Homo sapiens: one gene and its partners. The protein of the gene in region 3 binds, or shares a complex with, the protein of the main gene of each other region. Each region holds a gene or a part of one and is shown on either strand. Other genes may lie near its edges.

Region 1 (3,648 bases), 5.5 Mb from region 3:
TTAATTCATTGCCCTGCTCATGGCTGATGATCCTGCACACTTGTGGGATGGTCCAGTTGTGTCCCCCATTCCCCTTCCTCTCAACTGCAAGACCCCAAGGGGTCAGGCTCACCTTTGTCTCTCCAGAACCCAGCGCAGTGTGGGGACTTGTTGGGCGAGCATGGAGACTCTGCCCAGCAGAGGAAGGGGAGAGTTCCCGGCTGGAGCCCAGGCTCTGAGGGCATTCCTGCCAGGGTCATGTGGGTGGAAGACAGGGGCCCTCAAGCCCTGGGTGTCGGTGTCTGCATGACTGCTGGGATGGATGCGAAGACACTGAGGCAGCTCCCCCCAACCCCAGCTGTCTGACAGCAAAGATGCTTTTAAGAAGACGTGGAACCCCAAGTTCACCCTGCGCTCGCACTACGACGGCATTCGTTCCCTGGCCTTCCACCACAGCCAGTCGGCTCTGCTCACCGCCTCCGAGGACGGCACGCTCAAGCTCTGGAACCTGCAGAAGGCGGTCACGGCCAAGAAGTGAGGGCAGCAAGCTCAGAGCCGGGGGCAGGGGCATCTGGGGACGGGGGTGACAGGGTCTCAGTGACATCAGGCTCCTCTGTCATCCCACAGGAATGCGGCGCTAGATGTGGAACCTATACATGCTTTCCGGGCTCACAGGTAGGGAGGTGCCCCTGAGCCTGCTAGAAACTCGTCCTAAATGCAGCCTGACTCCTGACCTGCTCACTGCCATCGCGGGAGGCCCACGGCAGGAGGCAGGACAGCAGGGGGCTCTGAGTCCCCGCCCCCTTCATGATATACACAGCCCTGGTTCTTGGGGCTCCATGCTGACTTTCACATGCCCTGGCAGCTGGTACTCAGCACAGCCCTTCAGGGGAGGAGATGGAGGTGGGGTGGGGGAGGGCAGGGGACAGGCAGCTTGTCCAGGTAGCATGGCCAGAGCCCCAGTCACTGAATTCCTTTTGGCCATCCTTGAAGAATGCTAGTAGGGAACTTAGGTCCTGTGGCCAGGGGAGGCCCTGAGCTTGTCTCATCCCCCTTTCCACATATTTGTCCCTTCCAGGGGCCCAGTGTTGGCTGTGGCTATGGGCAGCAACAGTGAATACTGCTACAGTGGCGGGGCAGATGCCTGCATCCATAGTTGGAAGATTCCAGACCTCAGCATGGATCCCTATGATGGCTACGGTGAGGACAACGCCTCCCGCCTTCCCCTCACATCCACTGGGGCCTGGCCGTCCCCTCCACGCACACACACGTCGCGTCCACCTCTTGCCAACACTGCAGGCCTCAGGAGTGCGTGTGACGGCTCCCCTGTCTGCTCTGTTGTGAGCAGCGCGATGCAGCGCGTGGCCAAGGGACGAGCCAGCCGGGATGGGAATGATGGCTGTGGGAGGAGGTGGTGAAGCTGCCTGAGAATCTCTGTGAGCCGGCGTCCAGAAGGCAGTGCTGAGGCAGCCCAGGCTGGGAGCAGCCCATGCACAGGCGTGGCTGGCCCTGGCAGCCTCTGCTCTGCCATGCCGTGTACTCTGTGTGTGGGGATCCGCCAGGGTCTCTGCGTGGTTGAGGGGAGGGCATGTCCAGAGAAAGCAGAGAAGGTGGAGTTAGCTGGGCCAGGCTGGAGCGCGTTGGGGCTTTCTCTTTGGAGCATCTAAGACCTAAGTAGGGAAGTGACCAGACTGTCACTTCTGTTCAACATCTGTCCCCCTGTTCTCTGCCTTTTTTTTTTTTTTTTTTTTTTTTTTGAGACAAAGAGTCTCACTCTGTCACCCAGGCTGGAATGCAGTGGCGTGATCTTGGCTTACTGCAACCTCTACCTCCTGGGTTCAAGTGATTCTCGTGCCTCAGCCTCCCGAGTAGCTGGGATTACAGGCACGCACCACCATATCCAGCTATTTTTTGTATTTTTGGTAGAGACAGGGTTGCACCACGTTGACCAGGCTGGTCTTGAACTCCGGACCTCAGGTGATCCACCCACCTTGGCCTCCCAAAGTGCTGGGATTGCAGGCATGAGCCACTGCGCCCGGCTCTGCCTCCTTGATCATGCACCTGGCCCTGTGCTCCACCTTGTCTGGGCAGAGTTCAGAGGTCTTTGTCTCCTCTCAAGGGGAGGACAGACTTTAGAGAACAGGCTCACCTGCACAAGGTCAGGATCGGTCCCAGCTACATTAGCCACCACACTTTCGGTGTCAGCAGGCCAGAGCTGCTGGTGTGGACTCCAGCAACCAGGGAAGCAGTGATTGGACCTCTGAATGACCAGGGGGCTTTGGAGAGACCAGGCAAAGCCCATGCACTTGGCCATGGGCTGAAAAGACTGCTCGGGCCAGGGTTGGGACCAACCCTTGTCCAGCACAGGCTGCGTGCCGCTCCTGGGGCCACAGAACCATGCTGTTCCTTCTTCCTTAATGGAGCCCGAAAAATTCTGTATTGAGCTCCCAGTTTCTGGGCCCTGCTTGGGGAGACAGCTGTGAATAGAGGGAAATCCCTGCCTTCTGGAGCCCTAGAACCTTCCTTGGAGAGCTAGTGGGCAGTGTGAGCAGCTGCCGGGCTGTCCTGGCAGTGGACAGTTCCGAGGGGCACCAGGTGTGAAGTGGGTGCGTGGGTGATTGGAGCCCAGCTGCCTGGGGCTTGGCAGAGCTGGGGCTCTGGGCTGTCCAGGGAGGAGCTGGCAGCCCTGACACAGCCCATTTCCTCCCTGCGGTGGGTGCAGACCCAAGCGTGCTGAGCCACGTCCTGGAGGGCCACGGGGACGCCGTGTGGGGCCTGGCCTTCAGTCCCACCTCCCAGCGCCTGGCCTCCTGTTCTGCTGATGGCACCGTCCGCATCTGGGACCCCAGCAGCAGCAGCCCGGCCTGCCTCTGCACCTTCCCCACAGCCAGCGGTGAGTGGGGGCCCCGGTGCCTCACCCTGGAGCTGTGCGGGATCTGGAGGCTATCAGAGTGGTTCCTGCTGAGGCCCCAGGCCTCCCACCCACTGTCCCCCACCCTGGGGCAGGGCTGGGTCTGAGGGTCCATTCAGCAGCCTTCTCTTCCCTGTGCCCTCAGAGCACGGGGTCCCCACCTCAGTGGCCTTCACCAGCACCGAGCCTGCCCACATCGTGGCCTCCTTCCGCTCTGGCGACACCGTCTTGTATGACATGGAGGTTGGCAGTGCCCTCCTCACGCTGGAGTCCCGGGGCAGCAGCGGTAAGGGGGCTGACATCAGCTCATGGAATTGGTCTCAGTGTCTTCTGGGCCCCACTTCCTCCTGGGGCTTTGGCGACCCCTTGTCAGTCAGCTCAGATGACTCCCCTGCACCCTCAGGCCCTGAGCAGGAAGGAAGTTGGGTCCCAGTGGAGGGCCCCCGGCCCTCACAGCCAGGGCACTGGCGGGGCTGAGTGGGGAGAGCGCGTCAGGGCCGCCCCGTCGGGCCCTCTTGGTAGAGTGGCGGAATGTGTTCATGTTTGTTATTCCTCTTCCCCCGCCCCAAAACAGGGCCCAGGGGCTGCTTGTGCAGAACCAGCGCTGCGGTCGGGGACCGGAGTGCCCTCGCCCAGCCCCCCTCGACATCCAGGCAGAGGCTGGTGTAGGGGCTGTCACGCTGCGCTTGTGCCTCTGTTCTGGTCTTCCTGATTTTCTGCTTGACATCCTTCCCTCTTCCTGCGTTTTCCTTCAGGTC
Region 2 (3,648 bases), on a different chromosome or scaffold from region 3:
CAGGAGATCGAGACCATCCTGGCTAACATGGTGAAACCCTGTTTCTACTAAAAATCCAAAAAATTAGCTGGGCGTGGTGGCACACGCCTGTAATCCCAGCTACTCGGGAGGCTGAGGCAGGAGAATCACTTGAACCCGGGAGGCGGAGGTTGCGTTGAGCTGAGATTGTGCCGTTGCACCCCAGCCTGGGCGACAGAGGCAGACTCCGTCTCAAAAAAAAAAATAAAATAAAAAAATAAAGCAGAGTGAATTCAGGTGGCCTAGGCAAGGATGCTTGAAAAATAACAACCATGTTAGTATAAACACCATTTTTCAATGTTTTGCAAATCATTTTTATGCCTCTTGATTCTTACCGGTACCGTTTGAGATGTAGATGATATTATACCATTTTGTAGATGTGGAGACCAAGGAAGACTTAACTGACCAAGGTGAGATCATATATTATGTGGCAAATTTGTGATTGGAAACTACTACTCCTCCTACTCCCACTCATCATGCAGTGTTACTGTTTTATGGTTACTTTTGCAAACATTAAAGTTTATCTCATTGCTAGTTAGATTGGCTAAAGAAATTAGAAATAGGAGGCTGATTTTTTAATTTATTCAATCAGCAACCCTTATTGAACTTTCATGTGCCAGGTCCTAGGGGAGGGGTTGAAAGTGGTAGATCTGAATGAGGTTACCATTTAAAGTAAATGTTTAATGAAAGTTGCTGAAGCCTTTGCTTTTTTTCTCTTAAACCCCAGTTTTATATTTCAGTAGGGGAAAAAAATAGACATCAGAAACTGAATGAATATAGTGACGAATAAACATAAAGAAATCAGGCTGATCTGTGGCTATAAGTACTCCGTCTTTCATTGAGCATTTGTTGTTTCACTCAATTGAGATTAAAAGAAAAGCTTCAGATGGAGGCAGGAACACCAATCGGCTTTGAGTTTGCAGAAATGTGATTTAAAAATGAGATTTTGGTTTGCACATTTCTGTTACAAAATTTTATCAGTCACTTTTCAACTTTTCTGAACCGTGACCCATGTAAGAAATATATTTTACATCAGGATCAAAAACAAGTTTCAGGAGACCGTACTAATCCTTACTACGGGTTGAGTATCCCTCATCCAAAATGCTTGGGACCACAAGTGTTTCGAATTTTGGAATATTTGCATTATATGCTTGTTGAACATCCGAAATCAGAAGTGCTCCCAATGAGCATTTCCTTTGAGTGTCATGTTGGCGCTGAAAAGTTTCATATTTTGGAGCATTTTGGATCAGGGATGCTCAGCCTGTGCTTGTGATGTGCTGTTGTGGTATATTTAAAAAAGGAGCTGGTTGCAACACTAGATTGATTTCACAGCCCACTGATTCCTGACCCACAGTTTGAAAAATACTGAATTATATACGTCACATGTATTGCATATTGCAGGGCCTGGTTAATTTACCATGTTTTGAAGTTGTAAGTTTAACATAGTTTCATATTTGAAAATACAGATAATTTAGAGGAATAGCTTAAAAACCTGAAGTTTGTCTTGTTAACATCATCCTGTCCCCCTCGTTCCCCTTCTGTTTTTCTTGCTGCTTGGATAAATAGACCTTTGCTGAGAATGCCCCTTGCATCAGGATAGTGAGACTGGTGTCTAATGGCCAGTCTGGGAACATGGGGAGCTTTTCTCAAGTGCTCTGCTCCACCCTAGGGAAGCCTGTGCACTCTGGGAGTCTGGGAAATGAAGGCAAACACAGGACAGCTGCATTTAATTGTGGCTTAAGTGCTCTTGTACTTTTTTTTCTTGTTAGTGTCACATTTCCACGGGTTCTTTTCCGTTCCTTCCTTGGGAGGTGCCTGCCCAGTTACCCTGTTACCATCTGCACCCTGGGGGAAGGTTGGTGTGTCACTGGGTGTGGACAGTCAGGACATCCGAGACGTGGGTTCGGAGAGCACCTTGGGGACTTGCTGAACTGTGGAGTGTGCTCTGGTGACTGACAGCATTGGACTGCACAGGGGAGCCTGCAGAGTATAGTGCCCGGAGTCGTTGGAGGCAGAGTTCAGAGCCTCAGTCCATCCTGTCCTCAAGAGGTCGGCTGCCTGCTTTGGGGCATGTGCTCTAAGAAGGTTGCAGTGACTGAGGACACAGTGAGCAAAGGCACATGGTTGGAAAGCGGTGACACAGCTTCTGGTGGGCTAGATCTAGATCGGTCCTGGAGCTGAAGAGGCAGTGGGGTGCCTGTGGGCCTGGGGGAGGCCTTGCATCTGTAGACAGCCGGAAGTATGGCACATTTTTGAGCAGATGATCTCCTGTTCTTTGGGGCTCCTGCTTTCTCAGGTGTGGGGAGTGCTGGGTGCCCCTTTAGAAGGCATTGCAGCACTTCAGGGAAGAGGAAGCCCAGGGATGCGAGTGGGGAGCCCAGGTGTCAGTAGGACAGCCTAAGTGGATTTTTTTAGCATTCACTCAGCTTCGTGGCTTGAACTCTCAGTGAACATTTTATAGTATCTCATTACTCCTCTTGCTTTATGATCCTTTTTGCTGATCAGTGCTAAAGAGTAATAAGTACTCAGTTACTGTTAGTTACTGTTTTGTTAGTTAGTTGCCTATGTAAGTGTCAAAAAAACAAAAAACCTATTTTGAATACTCCGTGTTCCAAAATGTAACAATGGTAAGAATTTGTTTTGCTTGAAAGTGTTCTTTTTTGAGGGGGAGGATGGTCACAAGGTTTTTTTAAATTAGAAAAACCCAAACTTTTGGAGGAGTCCAGTCTCAGATCTGGGAGTATTCTTGATAGCATGTCACATAAAAGCAAGTGACCTTCAAGTAGGAATTGGTCAGATGAGATTTTCTAGCTTGCTAACTGTGCTGAGCAGTTATGGGCAGGTGGCGGCTGGCATCATTGCTTTCCCACCCTCTTTCTGACTTTGATGCTCTTCTTGGAGCTACGGTCTGATGCGTAGAGCTGAGCTGCCTAATGTGGTGCAGGTTGAGTTTCATTTTCAGTTCAGTATTTTTCCAGGACCCTGGTGCAAGATGCAGGGTGAGCAGTTACTGAAGGGAGGAGCCTGTCGATGGTCACTGCTACTTTCTGCTGTGCTTGTGCGGTTACACACACTCTAAAGCCGCAGTCCAGGCGTCCGATGGTCTCCTGAGAAACGGGCCCCTTAGCTCTTTATTTGGGCGATTACTCCCGATGATTCAGAGCTGCCCTTGTGGAAGCTCCTTACCTGCAGGAAGTGGACCACACCCAAGCCACCTTTCTGTGCCTTTTAATGCCTTAGCTCAGCTGATTATCATTAATGGAATCTTGTGGGTGGTGTGAGTGCAGGAAATAGAAGTTGCACTCTATTATCCATGTCTCATCGCGTAGAATCAGCCACTGTCGTCGGAGTAGTTTGTAGCAGTCATTTCCCATAATTCATGTTTTTGCAGTGGAAATTATAAAAAATATAAGTGCCAAATGCTTTGGGAAAAATAACCTGCCTCCTGAGGGTGACTATGGAGTTTCTTAATCCTAAATGGCTCCCTGGTTTGCAAGGTTTAAATTAGGGGAAATAAACTGAGATATGCCTTTGCTTGGTACAAACTGTGAAACATCCCAAATTGGTGGTTACCAGTCACTTTATGCGCACCCAGGGAACAACATTGTTGACTCTAGAGACCTTCCATTG
Region 3 (3,648 bases):
GCAGTTGATGGTGTATTAGTTAGCAGCAGCCTTTCTCCTAGCTCTAGTGGTGTATAAAGAATGGTGCTTATCATTGTTGGGATCTTGGGATTTGAGTAAATATAACAATTTGTTTCTTCCCAAATAGCATTATGTAAAGAAACTTGATAGTTACCATTAAATTCGGATATCTCAGCCTTCATCTGGGCATATGTGTATAATTTGTGCGTATGGACACACAGAAAATTGTATACAAATAGATCGTTTCATACATTTTACACAAAACAGGGCTTAACATGAGCATGATGAGGTTTGGGGGCCAGCCTAGAAGGGGTTCCTTGAATTTCACAAAATTATCTGTAGCCCCTGCCTGGTATTTGTCAGGTGGAACTTCTGAGCAGTGAATTCATAGCTTTCAGTAGCTTCTCAGAGGACTTAGGAGCAGAAGACATTATTTTTATGAAACCGCAAGGCTTCAACAAGGGCCCCCAGGGTCTGCAACTGAGGTTGGGACTCAGGCTTGCTGTGGAGCTGGGCTGGGACCCAGGGATCCTTCTCCTACCTGGCCAGGGTCTCCCAACAGAACATTCTCAGTGAGGAAAGTCCCAGTCAAGCCACGCTTCCTTTTGGGAAGCAGTTCCCTGTGACCGATGTGCCTGACGTTCATGTCAGCCAGCAGACACATCCTGGGGCTGTCTGGGCCAGGCAGTGCTGGAAACCAGAGAAGAGTTAGATCAGAATAGCTTGTGCTTGCTCGTTGCCTGCAGTGCACATCCCAAGAGCCTTACACAGTTGTATACTGATGTTAGCTGTATTGCCCAGATGAGGAAACTGAGGCACAGGCAGATTTAAGTGAATTGTCCGAGCTGGGAAGAGGCAGAGTCCAGATTCGATCCCAGGCCCCTAATTCTTAGCCACTCCTATGTGCTATCCTCAGAGGGCTCCTGGTTGCTTTCAGAGCTGTAAACAAGGGAGGCAGGGGGGTCCTTAAACCCAGGGAAGGCGCCTAACCTGCTTAGGTGGGATGGGAAGTTGTCAGGGAAGGCTTCCTGGAGGAGGTGGCTGTTAACCTGGATTTTGACAGGTTATAAGAAATAGAAAATGGCTTTGTGTAGTTTCTTCATTCCACAAACATTGAGCAAGGTCTCTAGGCTATGGAAACCCAGAGATGTGTCAGACCCACTCCCGGCCCTTGCTCTCAGCAGTGGTGAAATGGAATTAATTACAGAGACTCCTGTAGCTGCAGTGTAAGGATTGTTTTTTTGTTTGTTTTGTTTTTTTCCCGAGATGGAGTTTCACTCTTGCTGCACAGGCTGGAGTGCAGTGGCGGGATCTCGGCTCACTGCAACCTCTGCCTCCCAGGTTCAGGTGATTCTCCTGCCTCAGCCTCACGAGTAGCTGAGATTACAGGCGTGTGCCACCGCACCCAGCTAATTTTTGCATTTTTAGTAGAGACGGGGTTTCACTTTGTTGGTCAGATTAGTCTCGGAATCCTGACCTCAGGTGATCCACCCACCCCGGCCTCCCAAAGTGCTAGGATTACAGGTGTGAGCCACCGTGCCTGGGTGTGAGGGTTGTTTCTGTGTCAGCAGCTCTTTTTATTTTTATTTTTCTTTGAGACAGAGTCTCGCTCTGTCACCCAGGCTGGAGTGCAGTGTTGTAATCTCAGCTCACTGCAGCCTCTGCCTCCCGGGTTCAAGTGATTCTCAAGCCTCAGCCTCCCAAGTAGCTGGGATTACAGGCACCCATCACCATGCCTGGCTAATTTTTGTATTTTTTGTAGAGACAGGGTTTCACCATGTTGGCCAGGCTGGTCTAGAACTCCTGGCCTCAAATGATCACCTGCCTTGGCCTCCCAAAGTTCTGGGATTACAGGCGTGAGCCACCGCATCCGGCCAGCAGTTCCTAACTCTTTTGGAATTATGGATCCCTTTGAGAATCTGTTAAATTCTGGACCCTCTTCTTATAAAAGTACACAGGATTTTAGGCGGTTCACACTCTTCCCTACCCTGTGTGGTCTCCAGGTTTGAGAACCCTTGCCCCCAGACTTCACAGAGAGGCTTCACAGTAGTGAGTCTTCACTGTGCAAAGGCATCAATTGCAGTTTCTTAAATGTGTACCTTCCTGGGCCCTGCCTCCAGATATTCTGATTGTTTTGGTCCATGCTGGGATAGGCCTCCGGGTGATTCTGCTGCAGGGTGGTCAGGGATCATCCTTTGAGAACTACTTCCTGCAGTAACCTACAGGAGAAGAGAACCTTGGCTTACATAATTACTGCTCAGCCTCTGTCCCAGGCCTCCTTATAACAGATTGCCGTAAGTTCCACCGGTAGTCACTTGGCAAGTGTTGATTGAGTACCTTCTCTGTGCCAGCCCAGGTGGTGGGAGAACTGAGGTGAACAAGAGGAACTCTGTCCCTGCAGTATCCCAGTCACACCGCACCTATGGTCACACTCCCATGATACTGTCCTGAACTTGAGACGTCACGATAGCATGAGGACCTGTGACAGTGACATTATGCTGGCTTGCTTAGTATTACATTTTTCCTTTGAATCATTCATTGCAACTATTTTTAAATGCTATTTTTAAACATTTGTTTTTATTCTTAGTTTTACTGTAAAAATATACATAGAATGTGCTATTTTAATTATTTTAAAGTGTGTAGCTCTGTGGCGGTAGGTTTATTCACATTGTGCAGCCATTATCACCCTCCATCTCCAGAATTTTTCACCTCCTCAAACTGAAATTCCAAACCCATTGGACATGAGCTCCCCCTTCCCTCTCCCCCAGCCCCTGGCAGCCACCGTAGGAGTTTGACTGTTCTAGATTCCTCATATAAGTGGAATCAGAAAATATTTGTCTTTATGACTATTAGCTAATTTCCCTTGGCATAACATCTTCAAGGTTCATCCATGTTGTAGCATGTGTTACATGAGACTTCTCACATACAAGATTCTTGAGTTTTTTTGAGGGCTGCATTTGGAAAACCAGATTTGCTTATTGCCAGCTGCATTCTCCCATAGTGACAGTCCTTGGAGCTGGGGAGCACCTGCCCTCCCTGGGCTACATGCCCTCCAGGGTGCCACAGTGCCTGCCTCTTCCTATTCATGCCTCCTGCCACCCCTGCCTGTCACCTTGGCTGATGGCATCATTCTGTTACTTGACTGAGCCCTGGAGGCATTTCCATTTATGATTTTTTTTTTCCTGCTTTAAATACCTGTCAGCCCAAGTTGAATTTCAGATCAGAGACCTCCACACCTTTATTTGAACATATTGGGATAAGTTGAGTCTCCCTTCAGTAGGTCACTAATTAAGAGTTCCTGTCTTGTGCTAAGAGTGCTGCTGGGCTCTGGGGATACAGTGGAGAGCCAGTCGTATGTATCTGAAGGAGCACAGTCATTCTAGGCCCACAGTAACAACCAGCGAGCAGTCCCGAGCCCCATAGTCCCCCAGAAACATGAGATCCCAATTCAGTCACCAGAGCTGTGTGTAACTGTTCATGGGAAGCTTAGGTCAGGTTTTCGATCCTGACCTGTAGCTATTACTAGCTTGGGCAAGCCAGGCTGTACCTCAGTTTTCTCTTCTTTTTTTTTTTTTTTTTTTTCTTTTTGAGACGGAGTCTCGCTGTGTTGCCCAGGCTGGAGTGCAGTGGTGCGATCTCGGCTTACTG

Evidence for each region.
Region 1: PPP2R1A (region 3) and STRN4 share a complex: the UniProt entries of both Homo sapiens proteins name them as parts of the core of STRIPAK complex.
Region 2: PPP2R1A (region 3) and STK24 share a complex: the UniProt entries of both Homo sapiens proteins name them as parts of the core of STRIPAK complex.

Annotation. Positions count from the first base shown.
Region 1 is NC_000019.10:46,722,338-46,725,985, reverse strand, and holds part of STRN4 (striatin-4), read left to right. Parts: intron 1-337; coding exon 338-513; intron 514-606; coding exon 607-654; intron 655-1,057; coding exon 1,058-1,179; intron 1,180-2,701; coding exon 2,702-2,872; intron 2,873-3,035; coding exon 3,036-3,176; intron 3,177-3,645; coding exon 3,646-3,648. UniProt on the Homo sapiens protein: Calmodulin-binding scaffolding protein which is the center of the striatin-interacting phosphatase and kinase (STRIPAK) complexes.
Region 2 is NC_000013.11:98,570,594-98,574,241, reverse strand, and holds part of STK24 (serine/threonine-protein kinase 24 isoform b precursor), read left to right. Parts: intron 1-3,648. UniProt on the Homo sapiens protein: Serine/threonine-protein kinase that acts on both serine and threonine residues and promotes apoptosis in response to stress stimuli and caspase activation.
Region 3 is NC_000019.10:52,206,923-52,210,570, forward strand, and holds part of PPP2R1A (serine/threonine-protein phosphatase 2A 65 kDa regulatory subunit A alpha isoform), read left to right. Parts: intron 1-3,648. UniProt on the Homo sapiens protein: The PR65 subunit of protein phosphatase 2A serves as a scaffolding molecule to coordinate the assembly of the catalytic subunit and a variable regulatory B subunit.